Homo sapiens: one gene and its partners. The protein of the gene in region 2 purifies or fractionates together with the protein of the main gene of each other region. This does not show direct contact. Each region holds a gene or a part of one and is shown on either strand. Other genes may lie near its edges. The genes, in order: PDCD7, ZMAT5, RNPC3 and ZCRB1.

Region 1 (6,868 bases), on a different chromosome or scaffold from region 2:
TGCAGCGAGCCAAGACGGCATCACTGCACTTCAGTCCGGGCAACAGTGCGAGACTCTGTCTCAGAAAAAAAAAAAAAGACTCAGCTTACGTGTCATTGTATCATTTGGGAAGCATTCCCTCAGTAAATCAGATGTTCCTTCTTTGGGCTTTTACAGCACCTATAGTTGAATTCCTAACACACACCACGCTATACTGACATGATCTCCCACAGATCTCTAAGCCAGGGGTCAACAAACCCCAGGCCACGGATGGTAACCAGTCCATGGCCTGTTAGGAACCAGATCACACAGCAAAAGATGAGGCAGGCGAGCAAGTGAAGCTTCATCTCCATTTACAGCCACTCCCCCATTGCTTGCATTACCACCTGAGCTCCGCCTCCTGTCAGATCAGCAACAGCAGCATTACATTCTCATAGGAGCACAAAGAAGTGAACTGCGCATGGAAGGGATCTAGGTTGTGGGCTCCTTATGAGAATCTAAAGCCTGATGATTTGTCACTGTCTCCTATCACCCCCAGATGGGACTGTCTAGTTGCAGGAAAACAATCTCAGGGCTCTCACTGTTTCCACATTATGGTGAGTTGTATAATTATTTCATTATGTATTATAATGTAATAATAATAGAAATAATGAGGAAGAGGAAAGGGAACCCCAGAGGCAATCAAAGGTAATGAAAATGCCTTAGACGGCCAGGTGCAGTGGCTCACGCCTGTAATCCCAGCACTTTGGCAGGCTGAGGCGGGTGGATCACCTGAGGTCAGGAGTTCGAGACCAGTCTGACCAACATGGAGAAACCCTGTCTCTACTAAAAATACAAAATTAGCTGGGGTGTAGTGGTGCATGCCTGTAATCCCTGCTACTCGGGAGGCTGAGGCAGGAGAATCGCTTGAACCCGGGAGGTGGAGGTTGTGGTGAACCAAGATCATGCCATTGCACTCCAGCCTGGGCAACAAGAGCGAAACTCCATCTCAAAAAAAGAAAGAAAGAAAATGCCTTAGAAAACCATCTGAACAATTTCCAGTTTTACCCTGGCCCTGCTTAAAGAGTCTGAGATCAATACGCTTTGGAATTAGACAACTTGGGATCAAATATGGGAAACTGCCACAAACTCGTTGTGTGACTGTTGGCAAGTTAACCTCTCTATGCAACTTCCTAACCTGTAAAATTAGCATAATACTTCCTACTTCTCAAGGCTGTTATAAAGATTCAAAATCTGGTATATGTAATGACCTTAGCACACCTCTCTCTATATATACACAGATACATACATATATATACACACATACACATACATACATATATATACACATACATATATGTATGTGTATATATATGTATGTATGTGTATATATATATATATATATAGTAAATGCTCCGAAACACCATTGCTGAACCTGGGGATACATGGTTTAAAACTTGTAAACAAAAGAATCCTAGGGAAATCACTATTGCCCCATCAGCTAATTAGAGTATATATATTCCTTGAGGTAGGGTCCCCAAGTTCTCTATTTTTTTTTTTTTTGAGACGGAGTCTTGCTCTGTCGCCCAGGCTGGAATGCAGTGGTGCGATCTCGGCTCACTGCAACCTCCGCCTCCAGAGTAGCTGGGATTACAGGCGCCCGCCACCACGCATGGCTAATTTTTGTATTTTTAGTAGAGACGGGGTTTCACCATCTTGGCCAGGCTGGTCTTGAACTCCTGACCTCGTGATCCACCCGCCTCCGCCTCCCAAAGTGCTGGGATTACAGGCGTGGGCCACCGCGCCCGGCCTGTATTTTGTATTCTTAAAACCACCTAGGGCAGTACAAGACACAAGGAACTAGACACTTACTGGTTTTGAGAGTAAGTGGACAATGTTGGAGCAGGATAGGGGAGACCTGTCATTCGTGCAGTGCCACCGTGTAATCCTATACTTTGTGTTTACAGGATTTTACAGTGCACCTGGAACTTTTGTGTACCACACATCATTAACACAAAATTAACATGGTGGTATGAGCTGGGAAGGTTAGCTATCGCTTCATTTTGCGCGTAAAACAGAGGCTTAGCCCTGGGAAATGGAAGTTTAAAGCCTCCTGCTGCTCCAGGTTCCAACCACCACCACTCCTACCCCCATGAGCGGCCGCTGCTCTCACCCGCTTCTTCTCCTCCACCTCCTGCACACACTTCACCCTCCAGCGGTCAATCTCCTGCTCGCGTTCCACTGCCCGCGCGGCCTCTGCCTCCCGCTCGGCCTCGCGTTCCCGGGCCCTCTCGCGAAGCCGCAGCCGGCGGCGCCGGACCCTCTCCAGCCTCCTCCGCGCCTCGCCCACATAGGCAGCCTGGGTCAACGGCTGTAGCCGCTCGGCCAGTTCCGCGCGCAGCGGCGCGGTCTGGGAGTACAGCAGGACCCAGGCCGCGCCGTCGGCTTCGGCCTCGCGCAGGGCCTGGCTCAGGCCGCGCAGCCGCCGCACCAGGCGCAGAGCCCGGAGCAATCGCGCGCGCACTTCGCCAAGGCTGGGCCCGGCATGCGTGCGCTGGGGCACCGGACAGCCTGCCCGCCGCGGGGTCCCGAACACCGCCTCCAGCCACTGCCGGTCGCGCAGGCGTTGGAGGGCCGCATCCCCGAGCACGTCGGCCGGCGGCGGCGGCGCCTCAGGCCACCGCGGGCTCCAGGGCGGCCCCGGGCCGGGAGGCGGTGGCCGCGGCCGCTCGCCGGCGTCGGTCCCCGGGAAGGGCCGACACTGGGGCGGCGGAGGAGGCAGCGGCGGTGGTGGCACCGGGTAGAAGGCGCCAGCGCCGCCTCCGCCGCGGGAGGCCTCCGCGGAGGCTCGGGGCTGCAGAGCCAGCGGAGGCTGAAGGAAGGGGGCGGAGGCCCCCGGAAAAGGGCCGGGCCGCTGGGGGAGAGGCGGCGGGAAAGCCGGGGAGGGCAGCGGCGGTGGCGGACAGCCGAAAGGAGCAGGAGGCGGCGGCTGCGGGGGCGGTGGGCCTGGGCGACCCTGGCCGAAGAATGGTGGCAGGGCCATGTTCACGACGGAGATGCTTTGAGAAGTGACAGGAATCTGAGTGGCTCCTCATGAGAACCTTCCGACGGAAGTGACGTCGTTACGACGCGCGACCCCTGTAGACTCGTCCCTCCGGAAGGCTCAGTGCATAAGTGGGCAGTCGTTCAACCTTCTGTCGTTCAGTTCATAAATACCGTTCTTATTGAGCATCCTAGGTGCAGAGCTACCCACTCCGCATACAGTGAGACTGAGAGATACAGAGCTTCTCTTCGTGGAACTATCTGCCTAGTATAACACACTAATCAATTAATCATGGTGAGTATCTTCGAGAAGTTGGAGAAGGTTATCCTAAGAAACTGCGGCTGCAGCTGAGATCTGGAAGATAAATAGTTAAATAGAAAAAGAGAGGGAAGCACAGTGCAGATGAGAACATGTGCAAAGGCCCTAGTAAATAGGAGTGTGACCAACTACCCATTTTCTTAGAAAAATGAATTATTTTTACTTTTCTCCTTTCACCCCACCTCCTATTTAGCTCTTTAGGAATGCAATTATAGGGTGGGTGCTGTGGCTCACGTCTGTAATCCCAGCACTTTGGGAGGCCGAGGCAGGCGAGATCGGCCTGTAGTCCCAGCCATTGGGGAGGCTGAGGTGGGAGGATCACCTGAGCCCTGGGAGGTAAAGACTGCAATGAGCCACGATAACGCCACTGCACTCCACCCTGGGCGACAGAATGACACCTGTCAAAAAAAAAAATCCAATTAACCTTTACCTTCTCTCCACCAGACACTCTCTACACTGTAAGCTTATCTAATTATGTGTTCGCTTATTAGTTCCAAGGACCGAAGCTTAAACCAGGGACCTCTGGAACTTTCCCATACCAGGGGATTGCCTGGGGACAACTGTCAATTTACAACCTAGCTCCCCGCTACCCCCCACCCCCCCTCCGCCTTCGCCCCAGCCTCCATGGCGCCAACCAGATCACTGATGGATACATAGGAGCAAGTCCCATAGACCCAGCACCTCCTTGGTCCCTCCCCACCCCTTGCATGCCATCCAGGTCAACCAAGTCCCGTGCACCCCCCACTTTTTTTGAGACAGAGTCCCTCTGTCACCCAGGCTGGAGTGCAATGACGCACTCTCCACTCACTGCAACCACTGCATCCCAGGTTCCAGTTATTCTTGGTGCCTCAGCCTCCCTAGTCAGTTGCTGGGATTATAGACCCCTGCTGCCACGCCTGGCTAATTTTTGTGTTTTTAGTAGAGAGGGGGTTTCACAATGCTGGCTAGGCTGGTCGTAAACTCCTTACATCAGGTGATCCGTCCACCTTGGCCTCCCAAAGTGCTGGGGTTACAGGTGTGAGCCACCACACCTGGCCACTTTCTTTCTTTTTTTTTTTTTATGAGACAGAGTCTCCCTGTGTCGCCCAGGCTGGAGTGCAGTGGCGTGATCTTGGCTCATTGTAAGCTCTGCCTCCTGGGTTCATGCCATTCTTCTGCCTCAGCCTCCCGAGTAGCTGGGATTACAGGTGCCCACCACCATGCCTGGCTAATTTTTTTGTATTTTTAGTGGAGATGGGGTTTCACCATGTTAGCCAGGATGGTCTCGATCTCCTGACCTCATGATCCGCCTGCCTTGGATCATGTTGGGATTACAGGCGTGAGCCACCGTGCCCGTGGCAGTCACTTTCTTTTTACCATTCTCTTACTTGTTATTTGAATTTGCAAGCTGCAGGGAACTGGACCTGCCTTAGGTTACAGGACTATGTCTAGTGGGAAGCCTGATAGAATGCCAGTTTTGGCCTGTAATCCCAGCACTTTGGGAGGCCGAGGCGGGTGGATTGCCTGAGCTCAGGAGTTCAAGGCCAGCCTGGGCAATATGGTGAATTCCTGTCTCTACTAAAACACAAAAATTAGCCAGGTGTGGTGGTGCGTGCCCGTAATCCCAGCTACTGGGGAGGCTGAGGCAGGAGAATTGCTTTAACCCAGGACGTGGAGGTTGCAGTGAGCCGAGATCACACCACTGAACTCCAGTCTGGGAGACAGAGCGAGACCTTGTCTCCAAAAAAAAAAAAGAATGCGAGTTATGGATGGAGCTCTGAGAGGAGTCTGGTGATCCTGGTGAAGTGAAGTCCTAATGTCTGGGGTCTCATATCTTATGAACAATGGGAAACTATTTTGTTGTTGTTGTTGTTGTTTTGAGACCAAGTCTCACTCTTGTTGCCCAGGCTGGAGTGCAATGGCGCGATCTCGGCTAACCACAACCGCCACCTCCCAGGTTCAAGCAATTCTCCTGCCTCAGACTCCTGAGTAGCTGGGATTACAGGCACACACCACCATGCCCGACTAATTTTGTATTTTTAATAGAGACGTGGTTTCTCCCTGTTGAGGTTGGTCTCGAACTCCTGATCTCAGGTGATCTGCCTGCCTCAGCCTCCCAAAGTGCTGGGATTACAGGCGTGAGCCACTGTGACCAGTGGGAAACTATTGGTTTTAAACAAGAGGTAAAGAGAAGCCTGTGCCACCTGATTAGATTTTTAAAATTAAACTATTTTGAGACAATTGTAGATTCATATGGAATATGAGAAGTAGTAATACAGGGAGATTCTGTGTACCCTTTACCCAGTTTCCCCTAAGGGTAACATCTTGTAAAACTGTAGTACAGTATTGTCAGAGGCATTTGAACCAGAGTGACTCCATCTTGAGTGAGGGCTAGGAAAAGTGAAGCTGGGACTTGCTTGGCTGCATTCCCAGGAAGTTAGGTATTCCTAGCCTCTAGATGTTTATGGTTAAGGGAACAGACTAATAACATTTACTAAACAGACCCGTACTTAGGAGTGTCCTGAGATCCCGATATTTTGAGAATAGAAGCATTCCTAATTTTGCTTTAAAGATAATAATGTTGATTCTTGTAAAATATAGTAATTTAAAAAATTAATCCTTTATCACAAACCCTTGTGGCAGAGCACATCTCCCCATGATCTTTTTTTATCCTATATATAAGCAAGCATTCTACCTAGGGTGGACACGTTTCTCCTCTTACTTTCAGGAACGCCCTACTGTCTATGGAGTAGATATTCTTTCACCACTTTACTTTCTTAATAAACTTGCTTTTGCTTTGCACTGTGGACTTGCCCTGAAATCTTTCTTGCACAAGATCCAAGGACCCTCTGTATTAGTCTGTTTTCATGCTGCTAATAAAGACATACCTGAGACTGGGTAATTTATACAGGAAAAAGGTTTAATGGATTTACAGTTCCACATGGCTAGGGAGGCCTCACAATCATTTGGAATGCTGGGATTACAGGCGTGAGCCAGTGCACCCGGCCCCAGACCTCAATTCTTGACTTTTGCGCACCCGCAGGCTCAACACCATGTGGAAGCTGTGAAGGCTTGGGGCTTGCACCCTCTGAAGCCACAGCCCAAGCTGTACCTTGGCCCCTTTTAGTCACGACTGGAGTGGCTGGGACACAGGGCACCAAGTCCCTAGACTGCACACAGCAGCGGGACCCTGGGCCTGGGTCATGAAACCATTTTTTCCTCCTAGGCCTCTGGGCCTGTGTTGGGAGGGGCTGCCGCAAAGATCTCTGACATGCCCTGGAGACATTTTCCCTATTGTCTTGGAGATTAACATTCAACTCCTCGTTACTTATGCAAATTTCTGCAGCTGGCTTGAATTTCTCCTCCGAAAATGGGATTTTCTTTTCTATGGCATTGTCAGGCTGCACATTTTTTGAACTTTTATGTTCTATTTCCCTTTTAAAACTTGATGCCTTTAACAGCACCCAAGTCACTTATTGAATGCTTTGCTGCTTAAAAATTTCTTCTGCCAGATACCCTAAGTCATCTCTCCTAAGTTCAAAGTTCCACAAATCTCTAAGGCAGAAGCAA
Region 2 (7,030 bases):
GTGACTCGCTCCCAGCGGAGGACACCATGGACCCAGAGCAGGGAGGCGAGTGGCTGGTGCAACTCGGTTAGCAGGTGGCAGAGTGAGGATGGGACTCATAGGAGATCCTGTCCAAGTAGCGGTGCAGGGGCCAGAGCTTTCTGGGCAGCCTCCAACCAGCTCAAGCCTTTTGCACACGGGCTGAAGGAGTCTGGGGTGTAGGACGTGGATCCCTGGACAGCAACCAGTCCCAAAGGAGGTGCTCACATGCACAAAGACAGGATAGAACCCCTTTAGACGGGACCCTTCAGACAGGACCAGGAGGAGAGAATGTCACACTCCAACGTTTGAGTCATGTCTGTACCACATATACTTTTAAGGTGGGGAGACAAAAACTGAACACGGATTTAAAATAAAGGTAAAAGACAAAGTTAGTTTTAAAACACCTTTACTGGCTGGGTGCGGTGGCTCATGCCTGTAATCCCAGCACTCTGGGAGGCTGAGGCAGGTGAATCACCTGAGGTCAGGAGTTCGAGACCAGCCTGGCCAGCACAGCGAAACTCTGTCTCTACTAAAAATACAAAAATTAGCCGGGCATGGTGGTGCATGCCTGTAATCCCAGCTACTTGGGAGGCTGCAGCATGAGAAATGTTTGAACCCAGGAGGCGGAGGTTGCAGTGAGCCGAGATCGTGCCACTGCACTTCAGCCTGGGTGACAGAGCGAGACTCCATCTCAAAAAAAAAAAAAAAAAAAAAAAGGCTGGGCGCGGTGGCTGACACCTGTAATCCCAGCACTTTGGGAGGCTGAGGCGGGTGGATCAGGAGGGCAGGAGATTGAGACCATCCTGGGTAACATGGTGAAACCCCGTCTCCACTAAAAACACACAAAAAAATTAGCCGGGCGTGGTGGCGGGTGCCTGTAGTCCCAGCTACTCAGGAGGCTGAGGCAGGAGAATGGCGTGAACCCCAAGAGGTGGAGTTTGCAATGAGACAATTGCACCACTGTACTCCAGCCTGGGCGGTAGAGCAAGAATCCGTCTCAAAAAAAAAAAAAAAAGCCGAGTGTGGTGGCTCATGCCTGTAATCCCAACACGTTGCACTTTGGGAGGCCGAGGCAGGCGGATCACCTGAAGTCGGGAGTTCAAGACCAGGCTGGCCAACATGGTAAAACCCCATCTCTACAAAAATACAAAAATCAGCCAGGTATGATGGTGGGTGCCTGTAATCCCAGCTACTTGGGAAGCTGAGGCAGAAGAATCGCTTGAACCCAGAGGCAGAGGTTGCAGTGAGCTGAGATCACACCACTGCACTCCAGCCTGGGCAATACAGCAAGACTCCATCACAAAAAAAGAAAGAAAGAAAGAAAAAAAACACCCTCATAGTCTCTTTCACTGGAGCACAGAGAAGGCAAGAAGTTTGGCCTTCACCTCCTGGCAGAGCTCCAAGGGAAGGCCTCTTCCCCCAGACTATCTGGCCAGGTCCCCTTGGCCCAGGCCAGGCCACCATTTTGTGAAGCCACACCACAGAGGTAGTCAGGTCTGAAGCCCGTTGCAAGATGGGGAAAGCAAGGTAGTCGGGATGGGAAAACGTGTTCAAAGTCGCATGCGGCTCCTGGGCGCAGCTTTATCCCCTTTTCCTCCCCTCCCTCCTTCAACTGCTGGAGGAAGAGCCCAGGAGCTCAGGCTTCGGTTTTGGCCGCCAGCCTTTGTCTGCCCCTGCCTGCCCTGTGCCCCGTTCTGATGTGAATATCACCCGAGGCCCTTCCCTCAAAGAGGAGGACCAGGGACATCACGAAGCACACACCCCAAGGACCCCGATCCAGCAGCTCCCCTTCTACTTGTGAGCGTCCCGAGGGCTGGGGCCATCTCCAGACCCCCTTCCTTAGAAAGGCAGTGGGACCAGGACCTCGTCATCACGCCTGTGCAATCCCGGCTCTACATTTTCCCGTCTGTGTGCCCTCGGGCAAGTCGCACCCTCCCTGTTTTCCCTTCTGCAAGGCCCTAGAGGCAACAGTGGGCAGCAGTGCATGGTGACCACAGCCCAGGCCCCTCCCTCTGGCAACGGACTTGTGACTTGCAGCCAAATCAGCTCTGCCGCCTGCCTCCCCTCCAGCCAGCACAGACTCCAACAGGGGCCCAGCTTTGGGAGAGGCTCTTTCAAACACCCCTCAGCCTCTGGCCAGGGCCTGGGGCCCCAAGGGCTCCTCGGGGAGCTATGTGTAGGCAACTTTATTCGGCCCCTGGGCCTGGGCAGTTCATGGAGATTCCTGAGCCTCAGGAAGGGGAAGGCGGGCTGGGGTTTTGCCCCCAGGGGGCACAGCGGGAGGGAACCCTGGGGACCTGTACCTGCTACTTGGGGCTGAGCTCAGCCGCTTGGCTCTCTTCTCCAGCCAGTCCTCCAGATGGCCCTCGGGGAGCTCAGGAGCATCTAGTAGCCACTCCCTGGCTCGCCTCTCCTCTGTGGGGACAGGGAGACAAAGGCAAGTGAGGGGTACACTCCTGCCTGCCAGAACCCTACCCTCTCACAAAGCAGAAGCAACTGGTAGGCCCTGAGCAAGCCTGGGAAGTTGCAGCAACCTTCCAGGAGGATGCACCTGGACTGCTTCTCCAGGCCATCTGTGCACGAGGGCCCAGCACTCGGCCTCGCTCTGTTTTCCCATCAAATAGAGACAACCCCGGCTGCCTCCAAGCTCTTGGGGAGCTGGAAACAGGACAGTGCTTGTAGAGAACCTGGCCCTGGCCAGGCGTGGTGGCTCACGTCTGTAATCCCAGCACTTTGGGATGCCAAGGCGGGCGGATCACCTGAGTCCAGGAGTTTGAAACCAGCCTGGCCAACATGGAGAAACCCTGCCTCTACTAAAAATAAAAATAAAAAAAATTAGCCATGTGTGGTGGTGGGTGCCTGTAATCCCAGCTACTTGGGAGACTGAGGCAGGAGAATCGCTTGAACCTAGGAGGTGGAGGCTGCAGTGAGCTAAGATCGCACCACTGCACTCCAACCTGGGCGGCAAGAGTGAAACTCCATCTCAAAAAAAAAAAAAGAGAGAGAGAGCCTGGCCCTAAGGAGGGGTCTGAATCTGAGGTGCAGGGAGGCAGTGAGGGCAGTCGAATGGGGTCACATCTCAGCTCTGTCACCTGCCGGGTCTTTGACCCTGGGCAGGGTAATGAGCCTCAGCTTCCCTGGTTTTTATTCTCATAAGCTGTCCAACAAAACCTGTTGCTCAACGAATTAAAACCAATCAACGAATGGAATTTATACAAGCTGGGTGTGAGCGTTTGATGGGGTCAGAGTCGCCAAGTCATCTGGGATGGAGTCTTGGGCCAGAGGAAAGTAATCATACACTTGACTAGCACTCACTCAGAGCCAGGCCCCAGTCTCTGGAGCTCACTCGGGGCCAGGCCTCGGTCTCTGGAGCTCACTCGGGGCCGGGCCCTGGTCTCTGGAGCTCACTTGGGGCCGGGCCCTGGGCTGTACAGGTGTCATCTTGCTTCATCCTTAGAGACATCACATTCGACAGGACACAGCCTCCAAGAGGTTAAGCCACGTACCAAGGTTACAGAGGACGTGGCAGAGCTGGGACTGTCAGAGCTGCCAGCTGGGACTCTGTTCCCAGCCTCCCTGGGCCTCTCCCCATTCCTGTCCCCGCTCGGCATCGTCTCCAGTTCCAGGCCCACTGCCCCGTGCTCGTCCCACCATGGGCCAGCCGTCCTCTGAGAGCCCATAGCCAGGGAAGAGCTGCAGCTGCCGCTGCTGCCAGGACTTGCTGGCCAGTCCCACAAGGCCTTGCTTCCACCCTGGGGAAAAATGCTCCTGGAAACCCTGTGTTGGTCCCGGGGCTGCAGCCACAGCACCACTGGCTCCCAGGGCAGGGCACGGAGCCTGCAGTGTCTAACTGGTCAGAGGGGAGTGAGGCCCGTAGGGGGATCAGGGCAAAGGCCAAGCTGCCCCAGACCTTCACTGGCTACCCTGAGGCCTCCTGGACAGAGAAGCTTAAGGGGGCAGGCACTGAGAGACCTGGAGTCTGCCCCCAACCTGCTGGGGGGCTCACGCGAGGCCTTTCAGTCTGAATGTTGGCCTTAGTTTCCCCACCTGTTCAGTGAGAGGCTGTGGAAGAAGATTGATAAACACCATCTCAGTCAGAACTTCCTTGTTCTCTAACTAGAGGAGTGAATTTCCCAAAGGCGAGATGTCAGTTTCCATGGAAGCTGAACTTGCCCCTCCCTGGAATCACCAGGCTGTGAGACTCCAGAGGGCAGGGAAGGTGCGTTCCTAAACTCCTTATCCCTAGACTGTCGTAAGGGGTCTGCTTGGTGCCAAGTGGGGACTGGGTATGCTGCCTGATTGAGGAAGGGATGGGGTGTACCCACCAATGACTGCTGGGCTGGCCACAGGGTCCAGGTGGGGCTGAGGTGCACCTTCAGGGCTCCCAGGCAGGAAGCCACACAGGCTCCACTGTAAGGGGACACAGGCCTGCCTTCTCCACTCATGCTGAAGCTGTTCCTAACACCTGGCCCAAACCGGGGGCTCAGGGCTCCGCATCACCCTGGGTGGCCCTTGGTTGCCAATGATGGGGAGATAGGGAGGCATAGGCCAGCTTCCCCGGTCTCAGAGCCCACATGCCCCAGCACCCCACTCCCGCTTAGCCCAGGGCATCCCGAGACGTACCCTCCACCTGGATGCTCAGCTCCTGCAGGTCTCGCTCTGACATGTGGGAAAATCTGCAGTTGGAGCCAAAGTCGCACTGGCCTGCAGCAGGAAGACAGAGTTACTCGCTGCTCGGGAGGGGCTCCCCACAGGGGCTGAGGGGTGCCCAGATGAGGGATCCCAGAATCTTAGGGGCAGGACTTCAGGGCCTAAAGAATAGCAACCCTGATCCGGGACAGAAAATGGAATCTCTCCGGCCCTGCCCATTCAGCAGCCAGAGCGACTTCTCACCTATCATGCCACATGCTCACGACCCTTCTCCAGCTGCCCCCCATGCTGGGGATCACTTCCAACTGAAGCCTGTCATGACTGGGCCTCGCAAGCCTCTGCAGGCTGTCTCTGTCACCAGCCCTCCCAGCCCTGCCTCGATGAACTACATATGGGTTCCTGAAAGGGCAATGCTTCCTTTCTCCACTCCAAGCCGCAGCACGTGCTATGCCCAGCCTAGTATTCTGCCTGCCTACCTGGCTCACGGGAGCAATTGGACTGCTCCTTAGAAAGGCTTCAGTGGCAGCTTTGCCAAAGAGGCACCAAAATCTGGGGTGGCTTCCCCTCTTTCAACCAAGGAGACCAAAATGTATGTCGAGATACTGGGAGGCTGGAGGTGTCTCAAGCCAGGATAACCTACCAGTGACATATTCACATCAAGGCAAAGTCTGTAGGGAAGCCCCTGATCTGCAGGCTTGGTGCCCATCCTAGGGGAGCTTGGACATTCACCCAGTTTCCCTAGTTCAGCTGCAGCACCTCTCCCCAGTGCTAAGCTCCCTTACAAACCATGTGAATCATCATAGTTTTCCTCTTTGCCATGGCTGCCAGGAAGCTCAGAGCCAAACCCTTAGAGAATACATAGGACCTCAAGGGCAAGCATGGAGGAGACTATTCTCTTGGTTTTATCTTATTTTTCCTACTCTTATTTGTATCTGTCTTTGGTTCCTTCACTTACTGAGGTTTTACCTCTTGCTCTGTCTTTTTTTAAAAGAGACAGGGTCCTCACTCTGTTGCCCAGGTGGGAGTGCAGTGGTGCAATCATAGCTCACTGCAGCCTTGAACTCCTGGGCTCAAGTGATCCTCCTGCCTCAACCTCCCTAGTAGCTGGGACTACCAGTGTGTGCTACCATGCCCAGCTAATTAAAAAAAATTTTTTTGGTAGAGATGGGGTCTCGCTATGTTGCCCAGGCTGGTCTCAAACTCCTGGCCTCAAGCATTCCTTCCACCTCAGCCTCCCAAAGTACTGGGATTACAAGAGTGAGGCACCATGCTCGGCCCTTTATCTCTCTGACCTATATGCATCTCTAGTAGCTGAGTACTGAGCAGTCAAATCTACACCTAGCATCCTTGGTTCTGATCCTGAACTTCCTCAGATCATCAACCCTGTTACTCTCTGAAGTTCTGCCTGCTGGGAAGGAGGCCAGGTTCCCAGGCTAACTTAATCAACAAGTCTATTCCACCCATAAGTGTCTCTTGGATTTACATGTAATCTCCCACGCCTTGCTTGTTCTAGGTGAGCTGATATAATCACATTCTAGATCTGAAGAGCTGAGGACCAGACTCTAGGAGGTCCTGAGACACACTTGGGAAGGCCCTGACTGGCCAGTCAGCTGGAGCCACTGCTGCAAAGTGGGCTTGGGATGGTGGCCCGGGTCGGGGAAGACACTCTGCAGAGGTCCAAGTGGGGCAGGCTGGATATCGCAGGTCCCCGCAGGGACCTGAGCTGTGCAGAGGACTTTACCTGTCAGTAGAAACTTCCTGCAGGGCCGCTTGTTCTGCTCATCCAGCAAGATGGCAGCTGCATCTGCGAGAGAAGAGAGGGACGGGATTCGGATGGTTCAGGCTCCACCAAAGGAGGCAGGAAGTGGAAGCCACAGGGGCATATGGACCCTTTATCTCGACACAGCTGTGCAGAAAGAAGAGTTTCCTGTTCCACGGAGGAGTGGAAGCAGGAGATGACCACAGGTGGGAGTCCTGGGCAGATGGATCCGAGCTGCAGGTGACCTCAATCCATCCCACCCCACGCAGGACGGGCCAAAGACAAGGACCAAGTTTCATGCCAGCAGTTCTCAACTTGGCACGAGGGAGTCAGCTGGAGAGTCTGGGGACTTTGGGTTTTTTTGTTTTTTAGAGACAGGGTCTCGCTCTGTCACCCAGGCTGGAGTGCAGTGGTGCAATCATGGCTCACTGCAGCCACTACCTCCTGGGCTCAAGTGATCCTTCTCCAGTCTCAGCCTCCCAACTAGGTGTGACTACAGCTGTGCACCACCATGCCCAGCTAATATTTTTTATCTTTTTGTAGAGCTGGTGTCTCATTATGTTGCCCAGGCTGGTCTTGAACTCCTGGGCTCACACGATC
Region 3 (6,071 bases), on a different chromosome or scaffold from region 2:
TGTCTTCGATACTCACTATATTAAATTCTTCTTCAAAATTCTCTTGAATACCCTTACTCCTGACATCCACCAAGTTTGTCAACGTCAAGTTGACAAAAAAGAATGTTTTCCTACGTATATACAGCTGAAACTCATTTCATTAAAGGAACAGAATAATTTTATGTGGGAAATATTTTCACCTTTGAGTGACGTTCTGACAGATGAAAGATTTGGGGGAACAAAAATGGAAGACTGTATTACAGCAAGGATACAAATTTCTAAATTGGGATAAACCCCCATTTCCAAAAAACCAAAAGCCCAGTAAAACTCAAAGCCAGACAAATATAAAATAATTACAAAAAACAAGATTACAATAAAAAAAATGTGAAAGTGCTTTGGTATCCAGGTAAGAATTTTTAAAAGGCAGTATTTGTAATCATAAAAAAATTATATTACAAATTATATATATTTTTTATAATATTATGTTTTCCTAGATGTGTTAAACCAGATAAAGAAAAAATACAAACACTATTTTATTGGAAAGGAAACAATTTATTATATTTGAGGAAAATCATTAAAATACATGTAATATGTTTCCAATTCACTGATTTAAAGGCATATAGATTTAATTTTTAAATACACTTTCAAAGCTGTTACGCACAGTTCCATAGTCCAGGTGGTCAATTTCTTCCTCTCAAAGTTAGAAAGCACTTGAAGGACACGGGATTCAAAAAAACCTAAAACATCATAAAAGCCCATTAAAAATAGGAAGTATAACACAGGTCATTAGTTTAAAAATAACTAAGAGCTGAACCATTTATATTTAGAAAATTAGTGAATCATGTCAGTATAACAAAATTTATCTAAATAAACCGCTTATAAAGAAACTGATTTATAACATTTACAAAATCTTTTTAACTATGCCTACAGAAAAATAATTACATTTTCAAAATCTATAGGTTTTGTACTTTTAAGGTGATAATAACCGAATTTTCAATTGTTTTCACAGATCTAATAATAGTAGCAGATTTTTCAACAAAGAAACACAGAGGCTCCAACCCTTTATTTTCCTAGTTATTAATATAAGGTTGGATGGCTAGGTTGATACTAGGTACCTAATCATTTTACTCTAACAAAGCAGTGTCTAAACTGGTCAGTCCTTAAAATTACTAAAGAAACCTTTTCAAATCTGATTGTTATACTCCATTCCCAGAGATTCAGATGTATTAGTTCTAGGGTAGAGTACAGGAATCTTTATGCATAAAAACTCTTCCTTGGTGGTTCTCGACCTTGTTTGTATATTAAAATCAGTTTGAGAGGTTTATTCCAACATCTGTGCTACACTCCCAACACCTTAAATCAAAATTCTGACCAAAGGAACCAAGCATCAATATATTTCTTAAGGATTTTTTTAGGAGGGAGAGGGTCTCACTCTGTCACCCAGGCTAGAATGCAGTGGTGTGATCATGGTTCACTGCAACCTCAACCTCTGGGGCTCAAGTAATCCTCCTGCCTTAGCATCCCAAGTAGCTGAGACCAGAGGTGCAAGCCACCACACTTGGCTAATTTTTGTATTTTTTGTAGGGACAGGGTCTCCCTACATTGCCCAGGCTGGTCTCAAACTCCTGGGCTCAAGTGATTCTCCCATCTCGGACTTGCAAAGTGCTGGGATTACAGGTATGAGCCACTGCACCCTTTTAAAATTAGTATTTAAGTTCCAGATCACTGCAATGTGCAGCCAAGACTGAGAACCACTGTTCTTGGTGATTACGGTCATCAACCAGTCTGGAAACCACTATTCCTATATACCTGCCAAGACTGTTTTTCCTTAATGCACTACCCTTAGTGGGCATTATGTGTTCTCCCCTCTATTACGCTTTTCTTCTCTTGTTTAGAAAAAGAAAGGGGAAAGAAGAAAGATACTTCTATTGCTATCTATGTCAAAAGAGATTCACTAAGACTTCAGATGAGAGGTCTGCTACTCTCTAGAATTTACATAGTAATCCAGACATCTTAATTTTCAATGTAAGTACTTTTTAAAAGAAAAACATTTCCTTTGCCCAAATTTTAAACACATTATAAATACCTAAACCAGATATATTACACAACAGAAAGCATATGTTATTGAATTAGGTTTAGGAAACATACAAATAGAAGAAACAAGACTGTATTCTGGGTTAAAGTAAATGAACACATTCTCTAAGTAAGTTGACCTGATTCACTAACTTTCCCTCAAAAAATTATATAAAGGACAGCACAGAAAATTCAACAACAAATCTAAAAACACATAAAAGATCTGTTCAGTCTATACAAATAATTTTAGAAATATTTCATTTGAATAAAGTGTAAAAAAGTATTCCTTAACCTGGATCAACAGGTGGGGGAAGGACAAACATTTCTAGGAAAAAAACAAAAAAACACTGCCCCAAAAAGGATACGACAAGAAAGGATACACTTTGCATGACAGTATTACAGCAGTATTTACGCAGGAATGCTTCTAAAGAAGAACAGCAGAATGCAGTTTAATTTTTTTCTTATTTTTCAGCACCAGATTTAAAATAAATGATGTTTAAAAATACAGACTGAAATCCATCTTTCCTCTAAAGTGTTTATAAGACTTGTGACTACCCAGTATAGACGTACAACAAAATTCAAATATTCAAGCCATCTCAGAAGGACTAAATATTAAACAAAATTTTCCCTTATTTACCCATATTTGGCAGTTAAACACCAGTAATTGTGACCAATTACTTCGTGTTCTTTTAGTTTACAGAGGAACAAAAATTTAAATAAAAAACAAAGGAATATATTTCTACTTATTTCTTGAACAATGTAACAAACATTAACATTTAAAATGCTTAATTCTACCATATTTAATCATCAAATTAAGTATGCACTAAAATTACCTGTTTTAAAGACAAAAAATATTTAACTCCACAAACACATATTGTTGTGAAATGTGTTAATAATTTTATATACTCAGCACTGTAGATTTTTTTTTTTTTTGAGATGGAGTCTTGCTCTGTTGCCAGTGTGGAGTGCAGTGGCGTGATCTTGATCTCGGCTCACTGCAACCTCCACCTCGCAGGTTCAGGCGATTCTCCTGCCTCAGCCGCCCACGTAGCTGGGACTACAGGTAGGCGCCACCACACCCAGCTAATTTTTGTATTTTTAGTAGAGAGTCGGTTTCACCATGTTGGCCAGGATGGTCTTGATCTCTGGACCTTGTGATCCGCCCACCTCCACTTCCCAAATTGCTGAGATTACAGGGGTGAGCCACCGTGCTCAGCCAGAATTATTTTTAATGACAGTTTGACTTTTTTTTTTAACTTTTATTTTAACATTTACTTTAGGTTAATTTTAAGAGTTAGAAAATGTATCTGTAAGTGTTTATTCCAGGAGTTTTCAAGCTGTGGTCTCTGGATAAGATGCCTCATCATTACCTGAAACCTCATTAATCTCGCAAATTTTCAGGTGCCAACAAGGGTGACCGACCTGTCTTGGCTTACCAGACACATTCCCCATTTCAGCACTAAATGTCCAGCATCCTGGAAATCCCCTCATTAAAAGGAAAACTGGTATAAACAGTTTCCCTAGGTCCCCACATCAGACCTACCAAATCAACTCTTTCAGGGAAGGAAGGAACCTACGAATCTGTGTTTTATTAGGCTCTCCAAGTGATATGATACATATTAGGGTTTAAGAACCATTGCTTTACTATAGGCAGAAAAAGTTAAAAAAAGAGTAACAGGCACACTCCCCTTATAAGATTCATTCTCCAAACTTAATTTTCACATATAAATGGGTTTTAATCTGTAGTTATAGTTTTGACGTTTAATGGGACTTAACTGCACAGATAGGTATTTCCTCAAAAAAAAAAAAAAAGAGATACCTGAATTACTACCTTGTCAAACTTTTATTCTTAATTTTATCTCAAGAATTAGTCTTGTCTTTTTATTATGTTTTATTCACACTTACCTTTATTAATTTTTAACACTTTCTTTTTCCTTCCTTAGGATCTTGTTTTGGTCTAGCAGATCGAGCAAACTGCTAATAATTTAAAATTAAGGTTTCCTTCATGAATATGCAAGTAATCTTTTCTAAATAATTCTCAAAAACTTTCTAGTGTATGGTGGGAGTATGGTTTTTTAATTTACCTTGAGTGCCTCCTGCCTCTCTTCATGACTTGAGAGGAAATTAATAATTAACTTTTCCTTTACAGTCATTATTTTTTATACCTGGGCCTTTGCTTCTTTACCTATCTTGCTGATTTCTAGTTTGCAAACTGCATTGACTACTAAAAGCAAGATGGTTAATCAATGATATACTCTAGTTATTAAAATTCTCATGTAGAAATATAAATTACAATAAAATGATAAAATGAATTAGTTCTTTTATGACTCCAAATGTACTTCTGGATACTCTAGTCTCTTAGCATGCCTATGTACTTTTGAGCTGCATAAGTGAAACATTTAAACTTGGCTGAAATTGAACAACCTCATGCTGCTGAAGCTCTTTTATTAAAAATCTAAATAACACTGTCATCTGACTCAGTAAGGTGGGTTTAATTGTAACGAATGAATATCTACTGCTAGAATGCCAATTGTGGAAATTTCTAAAGGGTAACATGAAAATTAATTTCAGTTATATCCTTCTAAAAATTATATAGTTTTGAAATAGATGGATTTAAAGGATACAACCACCATGGGTTTTCCAAAAAGCACATATCCATTAGCTTCCTTTAAGGCTTTTGCTGCTGCTTTTTCATTAGGAAGTCCAATGAAAGCTTGTCCTTTCATACGACCTTCTTTCATCAAACGTATATCAAACCTAGAAGGAAGAAACAGTTTTGATTCAAAGAATGTCAGTTTCAATGTGAATGAAAATGTGTTGAATAATCTAACATTTTGCTATTTCAAATAAAAGTGACTACACTATTTGATAGGCACGTCAATTATTCAGTTTTCTAAAAATATATTTCATGTTCTGCACTAAAATTGATTCTACAAGTAGGTAGTATTTGTTTAAGATATACTTTTAACTATTCTCAACTATCATAAAAGTATGTGATTTAAAAATTATACTATTAGCAACTAGAAAACCAAACTTCTTTTTTTTTTTTTTTTTTTTGAGACAGAGTCTCACTCTGTCACCCAGGCTGGAGTGCAGTGGCATGATCTCCGCTCACTGCAAGCTCCATCTCCCAGGTTCACGCCATTCTCCTACCTCAGCTTCCCAAGTAGCTGGGGCTCCAGGTGTCCGCCACCACGCCTGGCTAATTTTTTGTATTTTTAGTAGAGATGGGGTTTCACCGTGTTAGTCAGGATGGTCTCGATCTCCTGACCTCGTGACCTCGTGATCTGCCCGCCTCGGCCTCCCAAAGTGCTGGGATTACAGGCGTGGACCACCGCACTGGCTGCAAACTTCTTAAATTACTATTTATCTCAATTTTTTAAGTTCCTTACAATCTGGCACTATCTGCTCAAGTGATTAAAAAAACAACTACTACTACATAACCAAGAATGGAAAAATAGAAAGGATTAACAGCCAGTTATAAGCAATTATAGAATTCATTATATTATTATTATTATGATTATTATTATTTTTGAGACAGAGTCCTGCTTGGTTGCCCAGGCTGGAGTGCAGTGGCGTGATCTTGGCTCAGTGCAACCTCCACCTCCTGGGTTTAAGCGATTCTCCTGCCTCAGCCCCCCGGGTAGCTGGGATTACAGCCGTCTACCGCCATGCTTGGCTAATTTTTGTATTTTTAGTAGAGATGGGGTTTCACTATATAGGCCAGGCTGGTCTTGAACTCCTGACCTCAAGTGATCCCCCCCGCTTCGGCCTCCCAATGTGCTAGGATTACAGGCATGAACCACCACACCTGGCCTAGAGTTCATTATATTATTATAAGCAATTACAGAACTTCGGAGTAGAAAGGAACCTCAATGATTATCTAATTAAAACCATAATTTTACAGGTGATGTCCAGAGACAGTGAGTGACTCTTCAAAGCAGATAGCTAAGATCTAAAGTCAGAAACACAAACCAAATTTTTAAATTCCTAATATAGTGATCTACTATTCCATGTAT
Region 4 (7,030 bases), on a different chromosome or scaffold from region 2:
CTGGACTCTGTTTTTTAAGTATTTTATTTTATGTTTATTTTTATTTTTGAGACAGAGTCTCCCTCTGTTGCCCAGGCTGGAGTGCAGTGGAGTAATCTCGGCTCACTGCAACCTCCACCTCCTGGGTTCAAGCGAGTCTCCTGCCTCAGCCTTCCAAGTAGCTGGGATTACAGGCACCTGCCACCATGCCTGGCTAATTTTTTTTTTGTATTTTTAGTAGAAACTCAGTTTCACTATGTTGGTCAGTCTGCTTTTGAACTCCAGACCTCAAGTGATCCGTCCACCTCAGCATCCCAAAATGCTAGGATTACAGGCGTGAGCCACTGTGCCCGGCCTGTTTCTTAAGTATTTTTATGGTCATTTTACAAACTTACACCTGTGAGAACCAGACTAAAATTCTCTTGGTACCAATACAGACCTTATACAAAATTATTCTATGGCTGTCTCTCTCTCTTCATCACCAAAACTTTAAATGGATAATGACAGATCATGAAGAGAACCAAAGAAGAAAATGTGGGGATAGTTCAGTTACAAAACACTAGCAATACTAATAGGAAAAAATAAAAAACTTCAAAACACAATATCCCATAGAGGATAAAGTCACATGATAATGTTGCTATTGAACTGTGACTTAAAAACTGTTAAAGAAACAGGCAATATCCTATTAACAAAAATTTATGAGTTACGAAAATCTTGCAAGACAGTGACATAAGTAATCAGTCTAACACTTTTAAAACTAGTGATTTTCAAAGATTTAGGAACTAGAGAAAATACCACTTTGTATTACCCAACTCAGGTTATCTTTACACATTGCATTTCAATTGAATTTACTTTGATGAGTTTAGAGACCCTAACAACTAGGCCAGGCACCATGGCTAACACCTGTAACTCTAGCACTTTGGGAGGCTGAGGTGGGAGGACTGCTTGAGCCCAGGAGTTTGAGATTGGCCTGGGCAACATAGGAAGACCCTGCCTCTACAAAAAAATTTAAAAATTAACCAGGGTGTGATGGTGCATGCCTGTGGTCCCAGCTACTCAGACACTGTGGTGGGAGGATCAGTTGGGCCCGGGAGGTAGAGGCTGCAGTGAGTTGTGACTGCATCACTGCACTGGGTGACAGAGGAAAACCCTATCTCAAAAAAATAAATATTAAAAAATAAAGCATTTTCATAATCTGGTTTAGCCAGTCAGAAGTTTTGGTGAGCAAAAATAAAAGACTGATGTGAAAAGTATCTTAAACTATGGAAAGTTCCATTAAGTTTTAGGTTTACTTACCCCACATTCATAACACTTAGATTTATCAAAGTAGTTTCGCCTTCGGATGAACTCAGCTGCTCTTCCATTGTCAATAGCAATGCTTGCTTTTATCACTCTACCAAATAACTAAACAAGAGAAAAATGTAAATGTAGAATGTATTTCACTGAAACCTAAAATTAATTATTTAATCAATTTTCTCAAATCTTCAATTCCAGTTTATTTTGGATTTTTTAGCAATTGTCACTTAGGTGTGATAAATTCTATTCTGTAGTATTCTTATTCCTGAGATTCCACCAATGTTTTGAGAACCCAGTAGTTTGACCTCTTTTCTTTCTATAAGTTAGATATCTTAAGAATCTACTGATATCTGCTAGACCTGATGATCCACTATATCCCCACATTTTTGGCCTGGATGAGCATAAAGGCTTTGGGGCTAAAAACCTTGATGGAGATGAATAGCTTACCTGTTTGTTGTTTATTGCCCTGGTACAGTTTTGTGCAGAGTCTTTATCCAAAAATAAAATAAATGCAACCCCTTTACTCTTCCTGGTATCTTTATCTTTCATGATGGTAACCCTTAAAGCATAAACAAAGAGTTAAAAATGAGGCAGCAATAAATAAAACAGATACTAATACTTGAAAAATTCATTTTAAAAAGGGCTAAAAATTTATAAGATAAATTAATACATTTGAAAAATCAGCTATCTCTTCAAAGTCAAGGGATATCAAGAATGGAAATGGGAAAGGGTGATACTGATTTAACAGAAGTGAGCACAGCTATGATTAGGAGTTAATCAGAGATTGAAGGGTGAAGTAAAGAAATTACAGAGACAATGAAATCTTAAAGTGTAACCACAATCCCTCTTCCATGCTAACTCCCTCACCTTGCAAAACAAAACAAAATAAAGGTATACTTTACACAAAAAGTAAAATGATTTATTTATTTTTCTAAGTGTTAGAATCAAAGTATATTCTTAATATTCTTTTAAAGAATCTTCAGAAAAATAAGGAAAAAAACCCTCCAGAGCTGGTTGTGGTGGTGCGCACCTGTAGTTCCAGCTACTTGGGAGGCAGAGGCAGGAGGATGCTTGAGCATGGGAGTTTGAGAACAGCCTGGGCAACATAATGAGACCCCGATCTTTAGGGAAAAAGAATCTCCAGTTCTGTGGTTTTTAGCCATACCACCCACCAGGGTGTACCTGAGTGACAAGGAGAGTTATGAGAGCACAGAGCCTGCTCTTTCTCCTGCCCCATCCACATCCCTAGTCATGGAGGCCCTTGCCCACCGTATGTCATTTAACATAGTTTAAAAACAATGTTCAACAGGGCTCTTTGGAGAAATAGCGGATTCCAAGGCTACAGCAGGGCAGGTACAAGAGGAGCTTGGAACATCTTATGCCAGAAGGTAAGAGAGTGCAAGAGTGCGTGAGCGAGTGAGAGAGAGAGAGACGGAGGGAGGAATGAATGAATGAATGATGGGGCCAAGAATACAGCAGCCAGCTGGAAGGAGCTCCCACTGGCCAAATCAAGGACAATTTGAGCATCAAAATAATTCATTACAGTAATAAATTATAAGCCACAGAGAAGGTAGGAATTTATAATTCTTACTGATAAAAGACCAATAAATAAGTGGAGGAGATGGGAGGGAAGGCTCTTGCTTACAACAGAATGCCAAGGGATGACTGGTGAATGTAGAGGGAATGCTGGAGTTGGAAAAATCACCAATTTGACAGAAATATTGAATAAGGTAGTTGCTTTATGTTTTGGAATTTTTCGTAATGTTTGTGAAAGTTATCAGTCTTTTTTTTTAAAGTAGTATTTCAAAAGAAGTATTGGCTTTCTACATCATCCTCAATTAATGATCTCTCATCTGTTGCCTCTTTTCCAATTCCACTGCTTTTTTCTTGTCCATAGGGGCATTACTGTTTTAACAGTCTATTCTTATTGGTTCCTTTATGGTAATTTTTTCTCTTATAATTTTCTCATATCCTTAAGTAGTCTTCTACTTAAGGAATAAATAAAATCACACCATTCCTTTGTTCAAAAATCTTTGGTTCTGTAAGTTGCCTATTCTTTGTCCCACTGTCAGTATCCTTGATGATTTGGCTCCCATCTCCTTCATCTTTCACTGCTCCTTCCCACGCACACACTATGAAGTCTACCCAAAAGAAACCACTCAATGCTCCAGTAGCATGGCCTGTATTTCCCCAAATTTGTGCCTTTGTTCATACAGCTTCTATCTTCTTCCACCTCTGAATCACTGCTCATTAAAATTTTCCTCATTCTTTCGGGGTTCAGGTCAATGTGTCAGTTTCTAATAGCTTCAACTGGATATAATTTCTCCTCCGTTATGCTAGTCTCTGCTGAATTGTGTTATTCATAAACAATGCCTCATCTCATCTATTTTAATGTAAACTCCTTTAAGGCTGTCTCTGTAATCCATATGTGCCCAGCTCAATATGTTGATTGATAGATATACCTTTATATTCAATGGGAAAGACAGACCAAAAAAATGGGAAAAGTAGTTTCTAAAAGAGTACATTGTGTGTGTTCATTCATTCGGTCACTCAGTCACTCTGTTAGCCTCAAGCCCATGTGCTAAGCACTAACAGTAGTTTTTACCCTCAGGAGAAATCTTACAGTTTAGTGGTAGAGACAGACCAACAAACCAACTATCATACAATACTTTGATAGAGATACCTTCTGTGGTAACAGAAAAAAAAAATTACATCAGAGATTTAAAAGGACAAATCTACTGTGACTCCCATGTTTCTGGCAAGGGAAAAGAGGTAGATAATAGCACCATTTCCTAATATAAGGTATATGATGTACTTATTTAAGCACATAATATGAAGCATACACTATTTTGGGAAACCTGAATGTCATCCATAACACCTCCTTCTTGTTCACAAAGTCCTTATACGCAAAGTAAGCATATCACTAAATAGTACCCACTTTGCTTCCTATACACATCACTATTACCCACTTTATTTCATAATGATCTCTGAAATCTGACCACCTCTCAAATCTGACCAGTCTCTATATCTCCACCTGTACTATTTTAGTACACATTTCTCCCCTGGGCTACAGTTTTAGATTCAGACTGGTCTCACTGCATTTGCTTTTTTCTTTTTTTTGCGATGGGGTCTTGCTCTGTCCAGGCTGCAGTGCAGTGGTGTGATCTTGGTTCACTGCAACCTCCACCTCCATCCGCCTCCTGGGTTCAAGTAATTCTCATGCCTCGCCTCCCAAGCAGCTGGGATTACAGGTGTGTACCACCAGGGCCGGCTACTTTTTGTATTTTTTGTAGAGATGGGGTTTCTCCATGTTGGCCAGGCTGGTCTTGAACTCATGACCTTTCAAGTGATCCTCCCACATCGGCTTCCCAAAGTGCTGGGATTACAGGTGTGTGCCACTGCACCCAGCTGCATTTGCTTTTGTTCCCCTCCAATCTAATTTCTACATTAAGCCAGAATAAACTTTAAAAAATTTAAATCATGTCACCCCTCACTTAAAATTCTTAAATGATTCCTGATATTCTTAGAATGAAAACCAAATACCTTGGTAACCTGACCAAGAAGTAAGATGAGGAACCTGCTTCCATCTCTGGAGCCACCTTGTGCTTTCTCCCCCTTACTCACTCATCTCCAGTCACATTGGCCTTCTTTCTATTTCTTGATCTCACTTTATTTTCTCTTGCCACAGGGCCTTTGCACAAGCTATTCCCTCTACCTGAAATATTCCTCCCTTATTTTTGCCTACTTAACTCTTACTCATCCTTTAGGTTTCCACTCAAAAAATACTGACCTAGGTAAGCCTTCCCTGGCTCTCTAGACTAGATAGTCTTCCCTGTTTCTAGGTGCTTATAACTCTCGTGTCTTTAACTCCATTGCAGTTTCATGGTTTAGGACTATATATTTATATGGAGATCCATTCAGAGATTCTAACAAAGTGGAAAAAGAAAAAAGGTAAAAGGGAGTGGGCTCTGAAATCTCACTGTTGGATTCAAATATTTTCTCCACCACTAGCTAGCAAGATGACCTTAGGTTTACTGTGTGCTTCAGTTTCATCATGTATAATACTGAGATGATAATAGTACCTACCTTAAAGGGTAGTTGTGAGAATTAAATAATACACATAAAGAGATTAGAACAATGCCTGGCATATATATGTGCTCATTTAAGTATCACATACCATCATCATTACCAGTGTTTGGACTGATGACAATGACTTTTTAAAATCTGAACACCCAAAAATTTACACAGAAGCATTTTTGATAATGCTTTTTTAATAGCAAAGTAACTGTAAAAGAAGTTAGTAATTTCAAGATGCAAAAGAGCTTCAACTGTTTAATATCCATTTATGGAACACTAGAAGAAATTAGCCAAGATAAATATGCTCAAAATTCTTGGGATTTTAAATTTATATCAGAATCTATATTGGTTACAAGAAAGTTAGGATGACAGTATCCTGTTACTTTTTTGCCCCATAATATAGTTGCTTGATTTAAAACAGTGAAATACGAGAAGTTCAAGTTCTTTTTATTGTTCCTAACCCTCAGCCCTGTTATCATCCATTACCATTTTTGCATGTTTCTAGTCTTTCCAACGATCTCCAAGCTATCTCTGAAGGAAGATAATATGTTTTCTATTTAAAAGACTCATAGCATCCTGCAAGTCAGATGCACTGAAATATTTGTTTTTACACTATTTATATGAAAAAAAACAAAACAAAAAACCACCTATTTATTTGAAAGTAGGTTACTTATAGTATACTTGATAACACACTTCCTAGTAACCAAAATATTTGTTTACCATTAGCTATGAGGATGTATCTTTATAGCACATGGAAAGACATTTATGGTATGTCAAATTAAAAAAGAAAAGAAAATTGTATGTATGTAATAGTCTTTAAGAAAAATTGTCTACATGTTTATGTACATGGAAAACCAACTAAATTGTCATAAAAATGTTAATAGTATTTTCTTTATTATATCAAGCATGTTTTATTTTTAAAAATCTGTCATTAAAAAAATGTAGAAGCAAATTCAGATAAACTTTTAAATGAAGTTACAAAATTTAATGTGAATACTTACTTTACAACTTTGCCATACTTGGAAAATATCTGAAACAAAAGACCAAATATTTACAATTTATTTTAAAATCATAAAACATCAAATTTTTAGGTTGCAGACATTGACCAAATTCTTTGTTACAGTTTATGAATAATTTCAGCCTTCAGTCTATAAGACAGGCCCTAGGAAAAAGTTTTTTTTGGTTACTAGAATAATATACTTACTGTTGTTGGAGTCACATGTATCTGTCTGTTTCTAAATTTGACAATGGAGTAAATACAGAGAAAAAAACTCACTCTACACATGTGGTAGATCTAAGGCATACATACTGGACAGCTGCTGTGTTCCTGAGGTATACCCATGGCAACTATCAACTCCATCATAGTGCCAGATACACCTGTGCTTCAAATGTCAATCTTATGGAGCAGCACTTTTCCAATTCTACCCTCACCACTACCTTGTTATTCCTATTAAGCAATCCCTGTTTGAGAAGGCAAATCCTTAGACTGCTTTATTTAAAAAACAAAACAAAACCTCATAAAATAAGCTTTTATAATGAAAAATCCATTTCTATCAGTCTTCTTCCTCTGCCCACCATTAACATGTTGGTGGAACTTTATACTTGGCTCTCTCTTCTGTTACTTTTACTTTATCCTATGCAATCTCATTTATTTCTACAGTTCCAGCTCATTACCCAT

What was found.
Region 1: the proteins of ZMAT5 (region 2) and PDCD7 purify together in Homo sapiens (affinity purification with mass spectrometry; 2 studies listed by BioGRID and IntAct, with this or other methods). This does not show direct contact.
Region 3: the proteins of ZMAT5 (region 2) and RNPC3 purify together in Homo sapiens (affinity purification with mass spectrometry; 2 studies listed by BioGRID and IntAct, with this or other methods). This does not show direct contact.
Region 4: the proteins of ZMAT5 (region 2) and ZCRB1 purify together in Homo sapiens (affinity purification with mass spectrometry; 2 studies listed by BioGRID and IntAct, with this or other methods). This does not show direct contact.

What each region holds. Positions count from the first base shown.
Region 1 is NC_000015.10:65,130,781-65,137,648, forward strand, and holds the start of PDCD7 (programmed cell death protein 7), read right to left. Parts: upstream 3,029-6,868; 5' UTR 3,002-3,028; coding exon 2,132-3,001; intron 1-2,131. UniProt on the Homo sapiens protein: Promotes apoptosis when overexpressed.
Region 2 is NC_000022.11:29,736,006-29,743,035, forward strand, and holds part of ZMAT5 (zinc finger matrin-type protein 5), read right to left. Parts: intron 6,476-7,030; coding exon 6,413-6,475; intron 4,726-6,412; coding exon 4,645-4,725; intron 2,437-4,644; coding exon 2,325-2,436; intron 1-2,324.
Region 3 is NC_000001.11:103,549,679-103,555,749, reverse strand, and holds the end of RNPC3 (RNA-binding region-containing protein 3), read right to left. Parts: intron 4,810-6,071; coding exon 4,677-4,809; intron 4,030-4,676; coding exon 3,970-4,029; 3' UTR 3,958-3,969; intron 1,107-3,957; exon of another isoform or gene 717-1,106; 3' UTR 511-716; downstream 1-510. UniProt on the Homo sapiens protein: Participates in pre-mRNA U12-dependent splicing, performed by the minor spliceosome which removes U12-type introns. U12-type introns comprises less than 1% of all non-coding sequences. Binds to the 3'-stem-loop of m(7)G-capped U12 snRNA.
Region 4 is NC_000012.12:42,316,065-42,323,094, forward strand, and holds part of ZCRB1 (zinc finger CCHC-type and RNA-binding motif-containing protein 1), read right to left. Parts: intron 6,383-7,030; coding exon 6,354-6,382; intron 1,835-6,353; coding exon 1,723-1,834; intron 1,384-1,722; coding exon 1,276-1,383; intron 1-1,275.